Linked DNA regions of Homo sapiens: region 2 is linked to region 1. Evidence: fine-mapped expression QTL. A gene starts in region 1. The other region holds a variant in brackets. All regions are shown on one strand. Distances are from middle to middle.

Region 1 (9,475 bases):
GCGAGACTCTGTGTAAAAAAAAAAAAAGAAAGAAAACACCCTAAATGTGGGTTATGGGGGACCCCAAGAGGCTCGCTTCTGGGTATTCAGCTGCGGGAAATGGGCAGTGACCTGGACTGCTGGAGGCTGAAGACAGACTGATTTTCTCAGGAATTAACAGGCTCAATTACAAGATGTAGTAGCTGTTTTTCCAGTTGCTGCTGGGCTCATTGCTTTGAGTCTCATCTGCAGTGGCAAAAACAGCAATAAAATAAAAAAATACATTAAAAAAATACTGTATCCTAGGATAAGCAGTTCGCTTACCGACCTAGCTCTGACCCCAAGACAATGCTAAGGCCTGCTCTGGTATTCTAAGAAGACGGCTTCAGCCAAGGCCTGGAGGTGACCCGTTCTAGAGAGAGGCTTCACCTCAATTAGGCCACAGAGTGGAAAACTTTTCCTCTCAGATCAGATGAGATTTGGCAGTGATATGAGGCTACTATGGAAACAGCCACCGATCTCCACTACTGCTGGGATCCCAACTGCCATGATAACAGTCCTCAACCAGACATTAATTTGTTGCGTGACAGTCAGCACGTCCTGCACCCCTCTGGGCATTACCTCTATCAGTTGTAAACTGCACTTCATAATCTCCAAGGTCTCTCCAGGGGCCAACCTTTCAGTGGACAACAGACTGCTTGAGGGTGGGAAGATGGATTTAGTCCCAAGCAGAAATAGATTTTTTTCTTTTTTTTTTTGAGACAGAGTCTCGTTCTTGTCACCCAGGCTGGAGTGCAGTGGTGCGATCTCAGCTCACTGCAACCTCCACCTCCCAGGTTGAAGTGATTCTCCTGCCTCAGCCTCCCAAGTACCTGGGATTTCAGGCGTGCGCCACCACACCCAGCTAATTTTTTATTTTTTGTAGAGACGGAGTTTCATCATGTTGGCCAGGCTGGTCTCAAACTCCTGACCTCACATGATTTGCCCACCTTGGTGTCCCAAAGTGCTGGGATTACAGGCATGAGCCACTGTGCCCAGCTGAAATATATCCTTTATTTATTTTTTTTAAAACAGAGTCTCGCTCTGTCACCCAGGCTGGAGTACAGTGGCGTGATCTCAGCTCATGGCAACTCCGCCTCCCAGCTTCAAGTGATTCTCATTCCTCAGCCTCGAAGCCAGTAGCTGGGACTACAAGCACGTGCCACCATACCCAGCTAATTTTTTTGTTTTTAGTAGAGACGAGGTTTCACCATGTTGACCAGGCTGGTCTCGAACTCCTGACTTCAAGTGATTCACCCGTCTCAGCCTCCCAAAGTGCTGGGATTACAGGCATGAGCCACCTCGCCCGGCCAGAAATATATTCTTTGATGTAGACAAACCTTTTCTCAAATTGCTTGTTAAGTGTGAGTGAAAGCATCCTTTCTATTTTTACTGACCTACAATACACACATGCAGTTAAACTAATCTGCTTGCTATGCAATCCGCTGGGCCGGGAAACAACTGCTTCTCCCACCCAGAAGCCCTGTAGCTATCGCCTCTATGGGTACTTGGCAAAGGTTGGCAGAGAATAACAAACAACACAGCAAAATAACAATTTATTTTTTCCTTCAAGGTCACTTTGAACAGTGAGTTTGAAGCTTCCCTTTTTTTTTTTTTTTTTTTTTTTGAGACAGACTCTCGCTCTGTCATCCAGGCTGGAGTACAGTGGCATGATCTCAGCTCACTGCAACCTCTGCCTCCAAGTAGCTGAGATTACAGGCGTGTGCCACAACACTCGGCTCACTTTTGTATTTTTAGTAGAGACAAGGTTTCTCCATGTTAGCCAGGCTGGTCTTGAACTCCTCACCTCAAGCGATCCGGCCACCTCAGCCTACCAAAGTGCTGGGATTACAGGCGTGAGCCACCATGCCTGGCCAAAGCTCCCCCTTCTTTCTGGGAGAGAAAAGGATTAAGTACGGTGGAGCATATTCTCCAGTCCAAGTCTTGGGCCTCAGGCTGTGCCCAGCTTCCTGGAACAAAAGCACGCACCCCCAGGGTGCTCAGAGGCCTACTTTATCTGACTGTTAACTAGCAAAACTAAACCAACTACATTTGCAAAATGCCATATGGATGTTCCAAACTGCATGTTTCAAGCTGGACATGGTAGCTTTTTTTTTTTTTTTTTTTTTTCTTCAAACAGGGTCTCTGTTGCCCAGGCTGGAGTGCAGTGGCCTGATTTTTGGGCTCACTGCAGCCTCAACCTCCTGGGCTCAAGCCATCCTCCTGCTTCAGCCTCCCGAGTAGCTGAGACTACAGTAGTGGGACTACAGGTTTAGATATAGAGTTTGAGAGGGGAATCCACATCAGAACTTCATTCTAGAATGAAAACTTAAATGACAGAGATTATTGAATACAAACCTCCTCATTCTTGATACCATGTCAAAAATTACAGGATTTGTGGGTTAAAGGCTTCTAAGGGGCTAGGCACCGTGGCTCATGCCTGTAATCCCAGCACTCTGGGAGGCCAAGGTGGGTGGATCACCTGAGGTCGGGAGTTCGAGACCAGCCTGACCAACATGGAGAAACCCTGTCTCTACTAAAAATACAAAATTAGCCGGGCATGGTGGCTCATGACTGTAATTCCGGCTACTCAGGAGGCTGGGGCAGGAGAATCACTTGAACCCGGGAGGTGGAGGTTGCGGTGAGCCAAGATCACGCCATTGCACTCCAGCGTACTCAACAAGAGCGAAACTCCGTCTCAAAAAAAGGCTTCAAAGGATTGTGGGTAAATTTCCAAAAATAGTAGCAATAAAGGGGGCAGGAGGCAGAGGTAGTAATATTCAACTTGTCAATAAAAACAAACAGCCGGGCGCACTAGCTCACACCTGTAATCCCAGTACTTTGGGAGGCCGAGGAGGGCAAATCACTTGAGGTCAAGAGTTTGAGGCCAGCCTGGTCAACATGGTGAAACCCCCATCTCTACTAAAAATACAAAAAATTAGCCGGGCATGGTGGCGGTCACCTGTAATCCCAGCTATTCAGGAGGCTGAGGCAGGAGAATCGCTTAAACCCAGGAGGCGGAGTTTGCAGTAGGCCGAGATCGCGCCATTGCACTCCAGCCCGGGCAATAAGACCGAAACTCTGTCTCCAAAAGAAAAAAAAAATCCTTCTACGTATCCAAGGTACCTAGAGTAGTCAATTCATTAAGACGGAATGGTGGCTGAGTAGAATGGTGGCTGCCAGAGGTGGAGGTGGAGAGGAATGGGGAGTTAGTATTTAACGTCTACAGCTTCTGTTTTCCAAGATGCAAAGAGTTCTGGAGATGGGTGGTGGTGATGGTTGCACAACAATGTGAATGTTCTTAATGCCACTGAACTGCACACTTAAAAATAGTCAAGATGGTAAATTTTATGTGTATTTTGCCAGAATTTTTTAAATTGGAGGGGAAGTGAGAAACAAGAAATCGCTCGACCTGCTATTTTTCATTTGAGGACCAGCATGGCATAGTGGCTAGGAACTAAGACCTTGGCGTCCTGAGTTCCCCTATCTGTTTTGCATTTACTAACTAGGGGCCTTTGAACAAGTCACTTTATATCTCTGAGACTTTATTCATCCTTACAAACAGGAATAATAATAGTTCTTATACAAGGTAACAGAATCTCACCAGCACAAGAGTAAGCACTTGCTAAATTGTTATTTTGAATTTTAATAACAAATTTTATTATTTGATGATAGTTACTTAAAAGTCAGCAATAATTCAGGGATAATTGGTTGAATTATTAATATTATATTATCACCTAGGGCGATAAGCACATCAGAAGACTTCGTTTTAAGGGAAAAAGAGACCCAAGTTAGGAGTCAGAAGACTTGGGCTTCAAGAGTGGCTGTGGGTGGGTATAAGATTTCTCCTTGGTGACACCCAAGGGTTGACGTAGATGACCTCTTTGATAACCAGAAAGCAAGATCAGCTTCGCTGCTCTGCGAAAGCCAGCCGTGGAGCTGCACCTCCCTCACCGCCTAAGTCTCCCGGGAACGTCCCGGGCGAGGGAAGGGGTCCAAAGGTCGTACACAAGAATACTGATAGCAAAGCCCCTTCCTACGCTGGTGACGGCGGCGTGGCGCAAGATTTGTGCAAGACTCCCTCGGATTGGGAGCAAGGGTCCCGCACCTTCGTGGCTCCCATGACAAAGTCTGCAACTCAGCCCGCTGGGGGAGCTGCAAGGAACCTGCAAGCGTCCCAGCCCCTGCAGAGACCCCCAAGAAAAAGTACCCCCAAAACAGCCTGGGTTGCAGATTTATAAATACTTCCTGCGCACATGCGCATTGGAATTTACGAGTGGCCCGGGGCGCAACGCTTGCCCACTGCGCCTGCGCCGTCTGGCTCTTCCTTCGGGGCACAGGACCAGAAAGTGGGGTCCCGTGGTCCCGCAAAGAAGGAAAAAGAATGGGTCAGCAGTGGCCACACGGCCCCTGTTTCTCGCTTCTTACCTCGTAATGCTTCATGGCTCCCTCCCACGGCGGCTACTGCTCCGCGGCTGCTGCTGCCTAACTGCGCGGCACAGCACAGGCTCCCTACAGCGCTCGCAACCGCAGCGATAGACTAAACGCGGCTCTGCGTCCGCCCCGCCCCTCCAGGCCGCGCGCGCCCCGTCGGCCAATCAGGGCACGAGGCGCCCACGTTCGCCCCTGCTCCTTGGGGCCGGTCCGAACCAAGACTAGGACTAGCACCAGGGGATTGACCAATCAACTTGCGAGACCAATCGAAGGGGGCGGAACGCCTGTAGGAGGGGCTAAAGAGAAGGGGCTTGACCATCCACCAATCCAAAGGAGGTCTCTGCCCCGCGCGTCCCTTTGCCACGCCCCCTGATGGCGTCGCTGTGGAAACCAAGGTAAGCGACGGTTAGGCCAGACGCGGGGGCGGGGTAAGAAGTTGAGTGACAGGCAAGGCAGCATCCACATGACAGGCGGCGCCGAAGGGGTAAATTCTGAGGTGGGCGGCCCCCGGGGTACACCGGGAACAGCAGGAGAGGGCTAGGGGCTGGGGTCGCGGGCTGCGGAGTCTGGTTGGCGAGGAGGTCACTATGGGAGGAGACTCTTGAGTGGGAGGGAAGGAAAGGCGAAACGGAGTCGCGAAAAGCTCCCCATTTGGGAACCCCCAACCTGCAAGAACCTTGAGCCCCAGCCCCATTCTGGGGTGGCTTCACTGCCGTTTTTAATGAAAGCCCCGCCCCACTTTGTTTTTCTGTTTTGTTTTGTTTTTGAAACAATCTCGTTCTGTCCCCCAGCTGGAGTGCAGTGGCGCAATGACGGCTCACGCAACCTCCGCCTCCCGGGTTCAAGCGATTCTCATGCCTCAGCCTCCCAAGTAGATGAGATTACAGGCACCCGCCACCACGCCCGACTAATTTTTGTATTTTTTTTAGTAGAGACGGGGTTTCCCCATGGTTGGCCAGGCTGGTCTTGAACTCCTGACCTCAGGTGATCCTCCCGCCTCAGCCTCCCAAAGTGCTAGGATTACAGGCCTGAGCCACCCCGCCCGGCCCCCCTCCACACTTTGCTCCGCCCTATGGACAGGGGAACTACATTGGTCTCTGCCTGACGTCCAGAATCGTGTCTAGTGGCTCCAATGGGGCCACTGAGCCCTTGAAATGGGGCTGGTCCAGGCCGGGAACGATGGCTCACACCTGTAATCCTAGCACCTTGGGAGGCCGAGGGGGGCAGATCACGAGGTGAGGAGTTCGAGACCAGCCTGGCAGATATGGTGAAACCTCATCGCTACTAAAAATACAAAAATTAGCCGGGCGTGGTGGTACACACCTGTAGTCCCAGCTAATCAGGAGGCTGAGGCAGAAGAATTGCTTGAACCCGGGAGGCGGAGGTTGCAGTGAGCCAAGATCTCGCCACTACACTCCAGCCTGAGCAACAGACCGTCTCAAAAAAAAAAAAAGAAAAAAGAAAAAGAAATGGGACTGGTCCAAATTGAGATGTGCTGTAAATGAAAAACACATAAATTTCTGGCCAGGCACGGTGGCTCACACCTGTAATCCCAGCACTTCGGGAGGCCAAGACAGGCAGATCACATGAGGTCAGGAATTCAAGACCAGCCTGGACAACGTGGTGAAACCCTGTCTCTACTAAAAATACAAAAATTAGCCAGGTGTAATGGTGGGCACCTGTAATCCCAGCTACTAGGGAGGCTGAGAATCGCTTGAACCCGGGAGGTGGAGGTTGCAGTGAGCCAAGATCGCACCACTGCACTCCAGCCTGGGCGACAGAGTGAGATTCTGTCTCAAAAAAAAAAGAAAAAAAAAGAAAAGACTTTTGACAGACAAAGGAACAGGCAGTACCTGGCACACTTCTTCACCTCCTCTCCTTACTCTTGTTTCCAGATCCTGCCCCTGAGCTTTCATGAGCTGTTGAACCATCTGGAATTCACAGGCCTGTCATGAGAGACACGATGAGAAGTCCTTAAAGGTAGATCACTGATTCACAGGGGAGCAGGCGGAGGCAAGGGTGAGTCAGTGCTTGGAACTCAGTCATCCAGATTTGGCTCTGGAAACTTCTGAAGCTGTAGCCTTTGGGGATCCCTGACTGCGAGTACAGGAAGCCAACGCTATGTGGTCTTCTGGAAACTCATTATCTTTTTCACTGGTGCTATCTGGGAAAAACAGATGAAAACCTGAAGGTGTTCTGTATGTGTGCTTTCAAAAGCAAGGATCTGGCCGGACGCAGTGGCTCAGGCCTGTAATCCCAGCACTTTGGGAGGCCGAGGCAGGAGGATCACCTGAGGTCAGGAGTTTGAGACCAGCTTGGCCAACATGGCGAAACCATCTCTACTAAAAGTACAAAAATTATCTGGGTGTGGTGGTGGGCACCTGTAATCACAGCTACTCAAGTAGCTGAGGCAGAAGAATCAGTTGAACCCAGGAGGCAGAGGTTGCAGTGAGCAGAGATCACACCACTGCACTCCAGCCTGGGTGACAAGAATGAAACTCCGTCTCAAAAAAAAAAAAAAAAAAAAAAAAAAAAAAAAAGCAGAGATATTTTTCTGGTGGCAGTTTGAGTTTTGAGGCCTTCTGTGTCATGACAGGCCTCACTCCCTGCCCTTCTTGGGTGCTGGGGGAGAGTATTTGCTTCCAGGCCACAAGTTAATTTTTTAGTAGAGATGGGATCTCATTATGTTGCCCAGGCTGCTCTGGAACTCCTGGCCTCAAGTGATCCTCCCTCCTCGGCCTCCCAAAGCGCTGGGATTACAGGCATGAGCCATCCCACTCGGCCTGAGACCACAGTTAAAATCCTATCAGATTGAGTTACCTGAGGTACTTGATTGTGAGGGGCCATGGGGATAGGGTTGAAACCCTAAGACCCATCCATGTGTTGCTCCTTCACCAGTTATGCAAATTTTCAACTTATTTAATGTGATCTGAAGAGGTGAGTCTTCCATCTCTGGGTTGCAGTTAGATAGGGCATGATGGTGTACAAGTAGGTGTCATTTTGAAGAGATTCCATACATATTCCCATAAACTCAGAACGTTTTGGAAATTCCCTTTTGAGACTGCTTTTCTGAGCCCCACACTTACTCAACAGGCACCAAATCATCCTCATGCACCTACTATGCTGCGTGTCAACCGGAACATACAAATAATTTCCACCCCCTCCTCACCCATAAGAAGCTGGCAGAAAGGCAAGATCCAGCCTCCAAAGTAGAATTCCTCTTTGTTTTTGAGGGGTGTTGCAGGCTTGAGGAACCCCTTGTTTGCCCATCTGGCTTCCGGTAACCAGGCTGTCAGCAGAAATGAAACCCACCCTTGGAATGAAGACTGGCCACTTTGTTCAAGCCACTGAGGACACTGTACTGTGGCCCCCTGACAGTGCCTGTCTGTAGGGACAGCTAGATCCTGCTGGTCCCTTCACAGTCCCAGCAGTGGCTGATTCACAATGGTGACTGGTAGATCTGTTGGGTCGTTGTTGAGCTGATGGTAACTAGCTCCTTTATTAAAGTAATTTCCAAGGGAGAAACTGCAAGAGACGGCCTAAGCTGCGGCAGCTTCCAAGGATGAGCTTTTCTGGACCTCAGGTTTGGGGGGAACCCGAGACCATTTGAATGCCAGAGATGTGATGTGTTTGGTAATGTCGTGTCTCACAAGCTCCTTTTGTATTTCCCATGGGCAGATCAGGTCGGATCTTGACTTTTTCCAGAACCTGGCTTGGCTGGTTTGGGTTGTGTATGAATGAGCTGGCTCGCTGGGTGTGTGAGGGGAGGTGAAGCTGGGACTAGACAAGCCAGGGCTCGTTAGCAAGTTTCTGCTGTGTCAGGAATCCCAGAGAGAGGTTTCCCAAGCCCTATCCTGTCTTGCCTGGGTTGTTTGGTTTTTCTCCTTCTTTTTTTTTTTTTCATTGAAGTGTAATTGACATGTAGTAAAATTCACCCATTTTAGTGTACAGCTCTGAACACATACGGTCATGCAACCACCACTACAATCAAGATACAGAGCATTTACACCAACCCAAAAAATTCTCCAAACTACTCCATTTGTTGCAGGTCCCAGCCCCTGGCAAGCATTCATCTGCTTTCTGTCCTGATACTTTTGCCTTTTCCAGAAGGTTGAGTGAAATGGAATCATGCAGCCTTTTGAGCCTGGCTTCTTTCACCCACATAATGCATATGAGGTTCATCTGTAATGTTGTTTTTTTGTATCCGTAGCTCATTCCTTTTTATAGCTGAATAGTATTCCATTGTGTGGATGGATCCCATTTGTTTATCCATTCATCCATTGAAGGACAGTTAGGGTTTAACTGCTGTTGGTAATAACTAATAAAGCCTCAGCAAACATTCGCTCATGAGACTCCATCTCAAAAAAAAAAACAAAAAAAGTAGATTTTACCCTGCTGGTGTTGCTATGTTGATGAAATTGAGAGGAGCCAGGAAATGAACATTATAATAGTATCTTTTTTATTTTTATTTTTGAGATGGAGTCTCGCTCTGTCACCCAGGCTGGAGTGCAGTGGCGCAATCTCGGCTCACTGCAACCTCCACCTTCTGGGTTCAAGCGATTCTCCTGCATCAGCCTCCCGAATAGCTGGGTTACAGGTGTGCACCACCATGCCCAGCTAATTTTTGTGTTTTTAGTACAGACGGAATTTCACCATGTTGGTCAGGATGGTCTCCATCTCTTGACCTTGTGATCCTCCCGCCTCGGCCTCCCAAAGTGCTGGGATTACAGGCATGAGCCACCGCACCCAGCCATGAATTTTTATATATGAACAAAGGTTTTCATTTCACATGGGTATCCCACTGGGAGTGGGATTGTTGGCTCATATGGCTATAGCGCTTTTTGAAGGTCTTTTTTTTTTGAGAACGAGTCTCGCTCTGTTGTCCAGGCTGGAGTGCAGTGGCACCATCTCGGCTCATTGCAACCTCCACCTCCTAGGTTCAAGTGATTCTCCTGCCTCAGCCTCCCAAATAGCTGGGATTACAGGTGCACGCCACCATGCCTGACTAATTTTTGCATTTTTA
Region 2 (9,475 bases), 32 kb before region 1:
AGTCCCAGAGAGGGCTCTCTAGGGGCCTGTTTGATGGGGACAGGGCAGGTGGCTGAAGCCACCTAGGGGAGTGGCCAAGCCCAGGTTCCAGTGGGAAGCCCTGCCACCTGCGTGGGCAGACCCCAGACCCAAGCCACAGGCACTCGGACATGTCTTCTTCAGAGGCCTCCCCCACAGTGCTCTGGGACGGCCCCTCCGCTTCCCAGGGCTTGGGGGGCGTGTCCTGGCCAGGGACCCTGACAGCCCCTCTCGTGCTTTTCCCCCAGCTATGTGATGCGCATGAAGGAGTTTGAGCGGGAGCGGAGGCTGCTCCAGCGGAAGAAGCGGCGGGAGAAGAAGGCGGCAGAGTTGGCCAAAGGCCAGGGACCCGGGGAAGTGGACCCCAAGGTGGCCCTGTAGGGGGTGCACCCCCCACCCTATGGACCAGTCAAATAAAAGCCTTCAGGCCCCTCAACCAGAGTCCCCTCTTACTGCTCCGACGCGAGAGTGGGGAGAGAGTGAAGGGCAGTGTGGTGGTCCCCAACCCCGGAAAGAAACACACAGAGCCCGAGTCCGACTGGGGCAGGCGGGCTTTATTCCGGGTGCTGGAGAGCTGTGGGCCCCACTCCTCCCCCAGAATGCCACCGGGTTGAGGGGCTGAGCCTCAGCAGGGGTGAGCGCTCAGAGCAGGAAGGGGATGATGGGCATGCGCAGGGGCGGGTAGTCCCGGAACTCCTTCAGGTAGCTGCGGTGCTTGCCCTTGGCCCAGATGGTCATCTGGGTGAAGCCCACCAGGGAGAACAGGGCCACTGCAGGAAAGAACGGGCGTCAGGGAGGGGCTGCCGGCCCGGAGGGGCAGGGCCCCGCCGAGGGAGGGCGGCAGGCTCACCTGGGAGACACTGCGTCATGATGGCGAAACCGATCCAGGACCCCACCTGTGGGCAGGGGCGGAGAGTGAGCGTGGGCAGCCTCGCAACCCGTGTATGTGGCTGTCCTGGACTCAGCCAGCCACCTCCCGCCGCCCCTGCTTTCTGAGTCAGGGATGGGAACCCAATTCCAGCGGAGGCGGGGCTGTATACGGCGGAAGCCCAGCGGCACACGCCTCCCCGCCACCACAGCAGAGAGGCCGCGGTCTCCACCTCCCAATGCTCGCAGTGCAGGCGGCAAAAGCAGCTGCCCAGCCAGGCGCCCCATCCTAGGGGCTGGTCCCTCCACATGGGACCCCAAGTCCCAGGGCAGAGAGGGGTAAGGCAGCCCCTCACCTCGTAGGTGTAGTTGGGGCAGGACACCAGCAGGAAGAGCCACGTGAAGGGGTTCTTGGTGGGGTATGGGATCTTCCGCGTCTTGGACCCTGGCAGGCAGGACAGAAGGAGAAAGTCAGACCCCCTCACCCAGCCCAGCTGTCCCCCTGCCCCCAGCAGGCACTCACCAGCGGGCCGCAGGTCCCGCAGGGCCATGTGGATGGAGAAGTTGCCGAGCTGGCAGATCTGTCAGAGAAGCAGGATCAGCCTAGGGCCGCCCAGACTCCCCCGACCCCGTCCCCACACCCAGCCTCCTTACCACAAAGATGGCGAGCGCCAGTTTCACCTGCTGAGCTCCGTAGGCTGAAGAGGAAGCAGGGAGGGGAGCCCATGAGGGGAGGACCCGCTGGGTGGGGACCGTGGGGGAGGGAAGGATGGTCTGAGGCCACTTACTAGGGGGAGTGTAGAGAGGGTGATTGATGTAATAGGCCATCCACGCGGCGAAGCCCCAGTAGTAGGTGCAGTTCTGAAAGGGAGCAGGGCAGGGATGGGACTTGGGCCAGCACCGGACAAGGCAGATGCTGCCCATGTCTCATCCCGAGGGGCCTGGGAGCATGGTGGGAAAGGACAGGAGGGGCCTTGGGGCGGGGCTGGGGAGGATAGGCGGGGCCAAGGGGTGAGGCTAGGGCAGGGCTCTGTGAGGGCGTGGTGGACAGGAGGGGCCTAGGGGTGAAACTGGGGCGGGGCTCTGCAGGGGCGGGGCTGGGGGGATAGGCGGTGCCTAGGGGTGGGACTAGGGTGGATAGGCAGGCCTAGGGGCCCGACGGGGGCGGGGCTGGGGAGGACGGGCGGGGTCTAGAGGCTCTGCGAGGGCGGGGCTGGGGAGGTTAGGCGGGGCCTAGGGGTAGGGCTCTGCTGGGGCGTAGTGGCAGACAGGAAGGGCCTTGGGGTGGGGCTCGGTGGGGGCGGGGCGGGGTGGGGCAGAAAGGCGGGGCTTAGGGGTGAGGCGGGGACGGGCTCTCACCTTGAAGATGTTGCGCAAAGGCATAGTGCCATGGGAGAAGCGGTGCACGAAGAGCGTCTCCAGCAGGCGCTTGATGTAGTGGAATGAGTGACAGATGCAGGCGAGGCTGGTCGGGGGGAGCAGGCTCAGCTGGGGCTGGTCCGGCAGGTCTTCTGCCTTCCCCTACCCTCCTCCCACCTGCCCCACTTACTGCACCACTGTATGCCGACTGGACGTAAAGTCATATTTGTGGCCATAGATGAAGGGCACTCGGAAGTAGAAGAGCAGGTAGATGAAAAGGGGCCCCGCGTACTCTGTTAGGAAGACCTGAGAGTAGAGGGGGGCAAGATGAGTCACCCAACGTGGCTGACGGGAAAAGAGGCCGTGGGTAGGGTCAGGACTCACCGTCACCCAGCTGATCTGGGCCCCCAGGTCCCGGAAGTACAGTGTGGCCGTGGTGCCCACGGGCAGCTTCTGCAGAACATCCTCATCCTTCAGGGACTTGCCCTCTGCAGAGAGGCGGGCCAGGGCTCAGGGGCTACCCGGGCCTTCTCCCACTGCCACCCAGGAGCCCAGGGGGCGGGCCGAGTGGACAGCTGTACTCACTGGGGTCCAGGCGGAGGGACTGGCGGGCGGGGTACCACTGCGGATCTGCGGGGAGAACAGGGCAGTTACAGCCCACAGCCTGGCAGGGCTCAGCCGGTCCGCTGCCCAGCCACTGTGCCAGCTTCTCAGGGTTCCCAGGGTGCAAGGACCCCAGGACTCCACAGCTCCTCCCACCTGGGGGCAAACCCTCAGGCTTGTGCGGTTTCAGGACACAAGCCAGAAGAGCGCGGGCAGAAGCAGGATCTTGTCCTTCCCAGAGCCTAGCAAGGGCGTTCCTGCGGAGTGCCACGTGGAGGCGCCTGCCCCAGTCACGCCCCAGAAGCCTGGGCCACACTGGGGCATCTCTGCAGGCCCCTGGGAGAGGGGTGCAGGATGGGATCCCTCCCACCCTAAGGTCCCTGGTCAAAGGGGTTGCAGGGGCAGTGTGGCCGGGACTAGAACTCACGGGTCTTAGTGAAGAGGTTCTTGATCTCCGCAATGGTGGCGTGGGGCTCCACCTGGGGGAAGCACAGGCGCAGGGACGTCAGCTCTGCGGGGAGCCCAGACTCAGGATGGGGAGGTACTAAAGGGGATGGCAGGCTGGGGGTTGGGCTGTAGCTATGGGAAGGGGGAAGGGCTGGGGTCCAGGCCTCTGCCTGCAGTCAGGGAAGGACCACCGAGGGCCCTGCCAGTGCAGTGACAGCAGGGGTCTGGGGCTCCACTTTTACCCTCAGCCAGCAGGCCCCCAGCCCGGCTAGTGGCGGATTAAGCATGGGAAGGCAAGCCTGCTTCTCTGCCCCTCCTCTCCACTTCTCACCCATGACTCTCCCAGGAGCAAAGGCCCTCTGTCCTCCCCAGGGACAGCGCAAGCCCCTTCCCCCAGGCCCGGCCTCAGCAGGGGCAAGGCTCACTCCTCCACCGCCCTCCCAGGACCAAAATCCCCGCAGGGTCCACTGAGACTCCTGTGCCTCCATTTCCCCGCCACACCCAGGGGACATGGCTATCCACCCTACCCCAAGTGAGGGCATACCCCTCCATAGGGCAGGGGGTGGGGCACAAAGGGCCCCACTGGACAGCTCCTGGGCTATAAGGATTGGGGTCCCGGGCCCAGTGCCCTTGGCCCAGTGCAGCCCACGCCCCAGTCCTACCTTGTCCAAGAAACACAGCTTCTCCCTTGTCTTTGCGTCCAGAATCTCCACCTCGAAGAAGAGAACAGCCTTTTTAGGTTTCTTGGCCACCTTTGGGGGTGTGGGCCTGGGGAGCCCATTGAGGCCAGGGAGGAGGCCTGGGGTGGCCTCCCGGGCCAACAAGCTCAAGTTCAAGTCCATGCCGCCTGCCACCAGCCCTGCCACTCGGCTCTGCCCACGGTGGCCAGCAGCCCCAGCTGCCGGCCGTCAGCCCCCACCACCGACCTCCCCACGGGAAGCAGCCCTGGGCCGGGCAAGCGCGATCAAATTCTGCCGCGGTGCTGGAAAGGAGCCCGTGCCGGCCCTGGCACTGCCGACTTCTGTGCCAGATGTAACCCGAGTGGCAACCACAGCCACAGCCCAGCTAAATATAAAACCACCCCAGACTGCGCCCCCCAGGAGCCATGCCACAGACCTTCTCTGAGGGGGGCTTGGGAGTCTCCCCGGGGAGCCAGGCTGCCCTGAAAGCAGCTTTTGAGTGGTCACCTCAAAACCCTCAACGGCACCAGCACAGGGAAAGCCCCAGGGGCAGGCATGACAACACCTCCCAGCCCCCGCCCTGCACAGAGCCAGTGGCTAGAGGAGAGTGAGAGGCCAGC[G/A]GGCCGTGCAGGCCCCAGCCCGCAGCTCAGGCCTAGGGAGTTCACTGGGCTTGGAGAAATCCCAGCTATTTTGAGAATCCGCGAGACAGATCATCCATTTCCCCTTCTGAGCTGTAAGAGACACTTTGGATTATTTTCCTTGTGCATTTGTGTTACCAGGGAGGTGACAGATTCTGGAGTTATGGGTGCAGAGAGCCTCTCTCGAAGTGTGGAAAGGATCGGGGTGTGTGGAAGTTTTAGGCAACCGCCTCCAGCTTGGGCTGATGAGGTCTCCCCAACCTTCCTCCCCACCCACTTCTCACCTTATAGCCACCTGTGGGGCAGGCTTTCCACTGAGTCAGCCCAAACACTGCACCCTCACCCAGGACCTGCGCCCCACTAAAGCCCGGCGCTTCCTGCGTCCAAGAGCCAGGCCTGTGCCAGCCCCTGAGGTAGGAGTCTGGCCCAGCCCTCCCTGAGCCCCCAGGCCAGTGATGAACGATGGGGGTGCAGAGGGGCAGGGCTGGAGGGAGGCAGCCCCCGGGGATCTGACCCACCCTATGCAGGGGTCAGTGCAATCCTATTATACAGGGGTCGTGGCAAGCAGGCAGGCCTGATCCCAAGTCAGCCACCAGCCAGCAATTCTTGGGGGACCCTTCCTACCCACAGAAACCCAGCGGGGGCCCCCAGAGGCTGCCTGAGGAAAAGGAGCAGGACACAATGCTCAGAAACAAACCTCTGGGCTGGGGCCATCCCAGGGCAGGCCCACCCACCCAGAGCCCAGGGAGACCGGGCCACGGCAGCTAGGGCCCATCCTGAAGATGAGGGCACCACGGTCAAGCCAGAGAAGCTGGGTACCCCTCCTGCACATTCCCAACGACAGCGGGAGACAAGGGGGCTTGGTGGCCTGCACTCGGGAACCGTAACCAGCCCTGCCTTGTAGTCCCTGGGGGACCCCAGGCATGTCACCTCTCTCTAGGCCTCAGAAGGGGGCAGGTAGGAAGCAGACTACCTCCCAGGACTGTGACGGTCCCCTGAGACAATGCATGGGGTACACTAGGTGACCCCTGACAGATGGGAGGCACCCCATGGGATAGGAGGCATTGTTGCCCGTGGGTTTGGTTCAGATCCCCACTCCCCTGCTGGCCTGGCAGTCACCACAGCATGGGGGCCTATTTCCCCAGCCATGACACACTCGCCCCCACTTCCTGGACAGGAGGGTGGGAATGGGCCCAGCAGCCAGGAAATCCTGGCCCACGGGGCCTCCTGAGTCCCTGCTGTCAACTCCAGGCACTGCCTGGCCTTGTGGCCTCTAGGGGAAGGTTACTGAACTCCTCCAAGCCACAGCGATAACAAGGCCAAAGAGCTGGCACATGGAGGGGCCAGAAAAAAAGAGCTCGGTCACACCACGCAGGACGTTGGGCCCCACCAAGGGGATATGTAGGATAGGGACAGAGGACACGGGGCGGGATCCACGGGAAAGGGTTAGCACAGCAGGGCCCTGGGCGGGCACGGGGCCTGCCCTGTGGCTGCAGGTATATTAATAGTTCCTGGGCCCCAGGCAGGCAGTGCCCACATGCTTCCAAGCCCGTGTGGCCTGTAGGAAGGCAGCCTAGCGTCCACAGGGAGAGAAGGCCTCCGAGTTCCTGCTGAACCACTCAACAGCTTAAAATACAACCAGCCCCTCTCCCTGTCCAGCCAGCTGCTAGTGGGAGGGGTGAAATCGTACCCTGCTCCCCCCAACCTGGGCACCAAACCAGGGCCCAAGAGGGAGAGTACGGCCATCGGGGTCCCGGCTAGCTGCTGGGAGAGGACGCCGGGCTGCGGCAGGAGGGGGTAGCGAGAGAGGGGCCACGCTCACAGCTGCAGCAGTGGTGCCCAGGCCAGCCTGAGGCCCAAGGAGAGGAGACGCCCAAACCTGCAAGGAGGTAAGCCCGGGCTGCAAGGCAGCACCTAGGGGCCCCTACAGACAAGAAATGCCCAAGGCTAGGGCCACCTGGGCAGGATGAGTCCTCAGTGGGACGGCCGTCCGTCTCCCATTTCCTGCCCCAAATCCCCAGCTCGTCGGCCATCTCCTCCTAGAGAGAGGACTGAAAGGCTCTGGGGGGAGCAGGAGACCTCTCCATACTATTCTTGCAATTCCCTGTGTCTCTATAATTTTTTTTTTTTTTTGAGACAGAGTCTCACTCTGTCGCCCAGGTTGGAGTGCAGCAGTGCGATCTTGACTCACTGCAACCTCCGCCCCCCAGGTTCAAACGATTCTCCTGCCTCAGCCTCCAGAGTAGCTGGGATTACAGGCACACACCACCACATCCAGCTAATTTTTTGTATTTTAGGAGAGATGGGGTTTCACCATGTTGCCCAGGCTGGTCTCGAACTCCTGAGCTCAGGCAATCCACCACCTCGGCCTCCCAAAGTGCTAGGATTATAGGCGTGAGCCACCTGGCCCGGCCTATAATTATTTCTAAGTAAGAAAGTTAAATAAGATATTCCAGGTGGGGTAAAAGAAATAAGTTACGCTAGGAAACAAGCCAGACACAAAGGTCCCATATCTATGCAAAATACCCAGAGCAGACAGACAGAAAAGCAAATTGGAGGGGCCAGGGGCTGGGCGGGGGGAATGGGGAGTGGCTGCTGCTGGGTACCCGGTCTCCTTTCAGAGTGAGGAAAATGTTCTGGGACGAGACAGAGGTGGAGGCTGCACAATGATGCACGTGCACTCAATGCCACTGTTCACTTTTAAATGGTTAGTTTCATGTTACATGAATTTCACCTCAATAAATTATTGTTTAAAGGGGTGAGGGGTAACAAACAGGCCCCACATACCCATCAAAATAAAAACAGTCGGGTGGGAGGAGCAGGAGAGGTTCCCCACCCCTCAGAGGGAGGGCCTAATGTGAGACCTCATCGAGGGCTCCGCGCCCCACACCCCACTGCCACCCCAATCTCTGCTCTGTGCCTGCCACACACACACACGCCTGCCCAGGCCTGAGGCCAACAGGGGGCAGGGGCTCCCAGGGGAAGCCCAGGGCTGCAGAGGGTACAGGCAGCTGCTGAACAGAGCCCCAGGCAGGGGATCCTGAGCACAGACGGGGAGGTGGCAGGCTCTGGCCCCATCTCCAGGAGAAGCGGTGAGGCAGGGAGGACAGACAGGACCTTCTGAGGAAGCCCACGGAGCCACTCGGAGGGGCTGGGAGGGGCTGAGATGCTCTGGGTGGATGAAGGGATACCTGTGGGAGGGGGGCTACTGGTGTCAGCGAGGTCCCAGCACTGGCCACGGGCAAGGGGTGAGACCACATAGCCTCAGGCACGACGGGCAGGGAGAGGGCAGGAACGGGCAGACAGGCAGGCACTCTGGCCTGGGGCACAGGCTGGTGGCTCTGCCGGCCTGTGGCTCTGTGATGACAGTTCCACTAGCCTGAGAGGAATTCTCACCAGGAGGCCCAAGATTCCCGGGGCCCAGCCAACAGCAACTCGTCGCAGCACGAGGTCAGGGCAGAGCCAAGAGCCAGGACACACGGTGCGGCGTGAAGCGCACCCTGCAAGAGGGAGCAGGGGCGAGGTTTGTGCCTCCCAAGCCCAGAGGGGAGTGCCGCAAGCAACAGAGCCCGTCTTCACTGTCTTTGTGGTCATGAAGATATTACTAATGGGGGCAGGAGGAGTGAAAAGGGGGGCTCTCGTTGTCTAAGCACTTGTCACAGCTCCTGGGAACCCGCCCGCCTGGTGGGTGAACAACCCAGAGAAGCAGACCTGCCCATTTCCTGGCTGTGTGGCCCTGGGCAAGTTACCCAACCTCTCTGAACTTCCATCTACTCATGGCAAAGTGGGCTGTCCCCAGCTGCCATCTGACAGGGTTACCGTAATCATCCCCAGTTTAGGATAAATCTTATTAAGGATAAATATAGGCCGGGCGTGGTGGCTCACGCCTGTAATGCCAGCACTTTGGGAGGCCGAGGCGGGCGAATCACGAGGTCAGGAGATCGAGACCATCCTGGCTAACACGGTGAAACCCCATCTCTACTAAAAATACAAAAAATTAGCCGGGTGCGGTGGTGGGTGCCTGTAGTCCCAGCTACTCGGGAGGCTGAGGCAGGAGAATGGCGCGAACCCGGGAGGCAGAGCTTGCAGTGAACCGAGATCGCGCCACTGCACTCCAGCCTGGGCGACAGAGCAAGACTCCATCTCAAAAAAAAAGAATAAATATGATGACCGGGCACGGTGGCTCATGCCTGTAATCCTAGCACTTTGGGAGGCCAAGGTGGGCGGGTTACCTGAGGTCAGGAGTTCAAGACCAGCCTGGACAACATGGCGAAACCCCGTCTCTACCAAAGATACAAAAATTAGCCAGGCGTGGTGGTGCATGCCTGTAATCCCAGCTACTCAGGAGGCTGTGGCAGGAGAATTGCTTGAACCCAGGAGGAGGAGGTTGCAGTGAGCTGATATCGCACCACTGCACTCCAGCCTGGGAGACAGAGCAAGACTCCATCTCAAAATTTAAAAAAAGAATAAATATGATTAGGCGGGGCACTATGGCTCACACCTGTAATCCCAGCACTTTGGGAGGCCGAAGCAGGCAGATCACCTGAGGCCAGGAGTTCGAGACCAGCCTGCCCAACATGGTGAAACCCCGTCTCTAATAAAAATACAAAAATTAGCCAGGCATGGTGGTGTGTGCCTGTAATCCCAGCTACTCAGGAGGTTGAGTCAGGAGAATTGCTTGAACTCAGGACGGTGGAGGTTGCAGTGAGCTGAGTTTATGCCATTGCACTCCAGCCTGGGCGACACAGCAAGACCCTGTCTCAAAATAAATAAATAAATAAATAAATAAATAAATAAATAAATAAGATTAGACCAACACTAGCAGAACAGCCATGCCAGGTGCACAAGGGGGCCAAACCCTGG

What was found.
Region 2: its variant is fine-mapped to the expression of TECR in blood mononuclear cells (TOPMed, PIP above 0.99). The same link has a PIP of 0.9 or more in whole blood.

Annotation. Positions count from the first base shown.
Region 1 is chr19:14,524,683-14,534,157 of GRCh38, reverse strand. TECR (trans-2,3-enoyl-CoA reductase) reads right to left here and starts at 4,564. Exons shown (of 13, transcript NM_138501.6): 1 at 4,447-4,564. The coding sequence starts at 4,461. MIR639 (microRNA 639) reads right to left here and starts at 4,615; the gene lies at 4,518-4,615. It also overlaps a transcript of DNAJB1 not described here. RefSeq lists enhancers at 3,813-3,872, 4,236-4,820 and a silencer at 4,473-4,762.
Region 2 is chr19:14,557,057-14,566,531 of GRCh38, reverse strand. It overlaps TECR (trans-2,3-enoyl-CoA reductase), which reads right to left. Exons shown (of 13, transcript NM_138501.6): 2 at 3,957-4,007; 3 at 3,275-3,326; 4 at 2,830-2,874; 5 at 2,629-2,732; 6 at 2,435-2,550; 7 at 2,245-2,350; 8 at 1,674-1,746; 9 at 1,540-1,583; 10 at 1,409-1,466; 11 at 1,242-1,330; 12 at 869-914; 13 at 552-788. The coding sequence ends at 661. It overlaps NDUFB7 (NADH:ubiquinone oxidoreductase subunit B7), which reads left to right. Exons shown (of 3, transcript NM_004146.6): 3 at 267-454. The coding sequence ends at 399. It also overlaps a transcript of DNAJB1 not described here. Among named protein-coding and RNA genes, the nearest start is that of NDUFB7, 10 kb to the left of the region's middle. RefSeq lists enhancers at 459-1,265, 2,882-3,689, 9,136-9,475 and a silencer at 1,843-1,992. The variant G/A (reference allele first, on the strand shown) is at 4,595.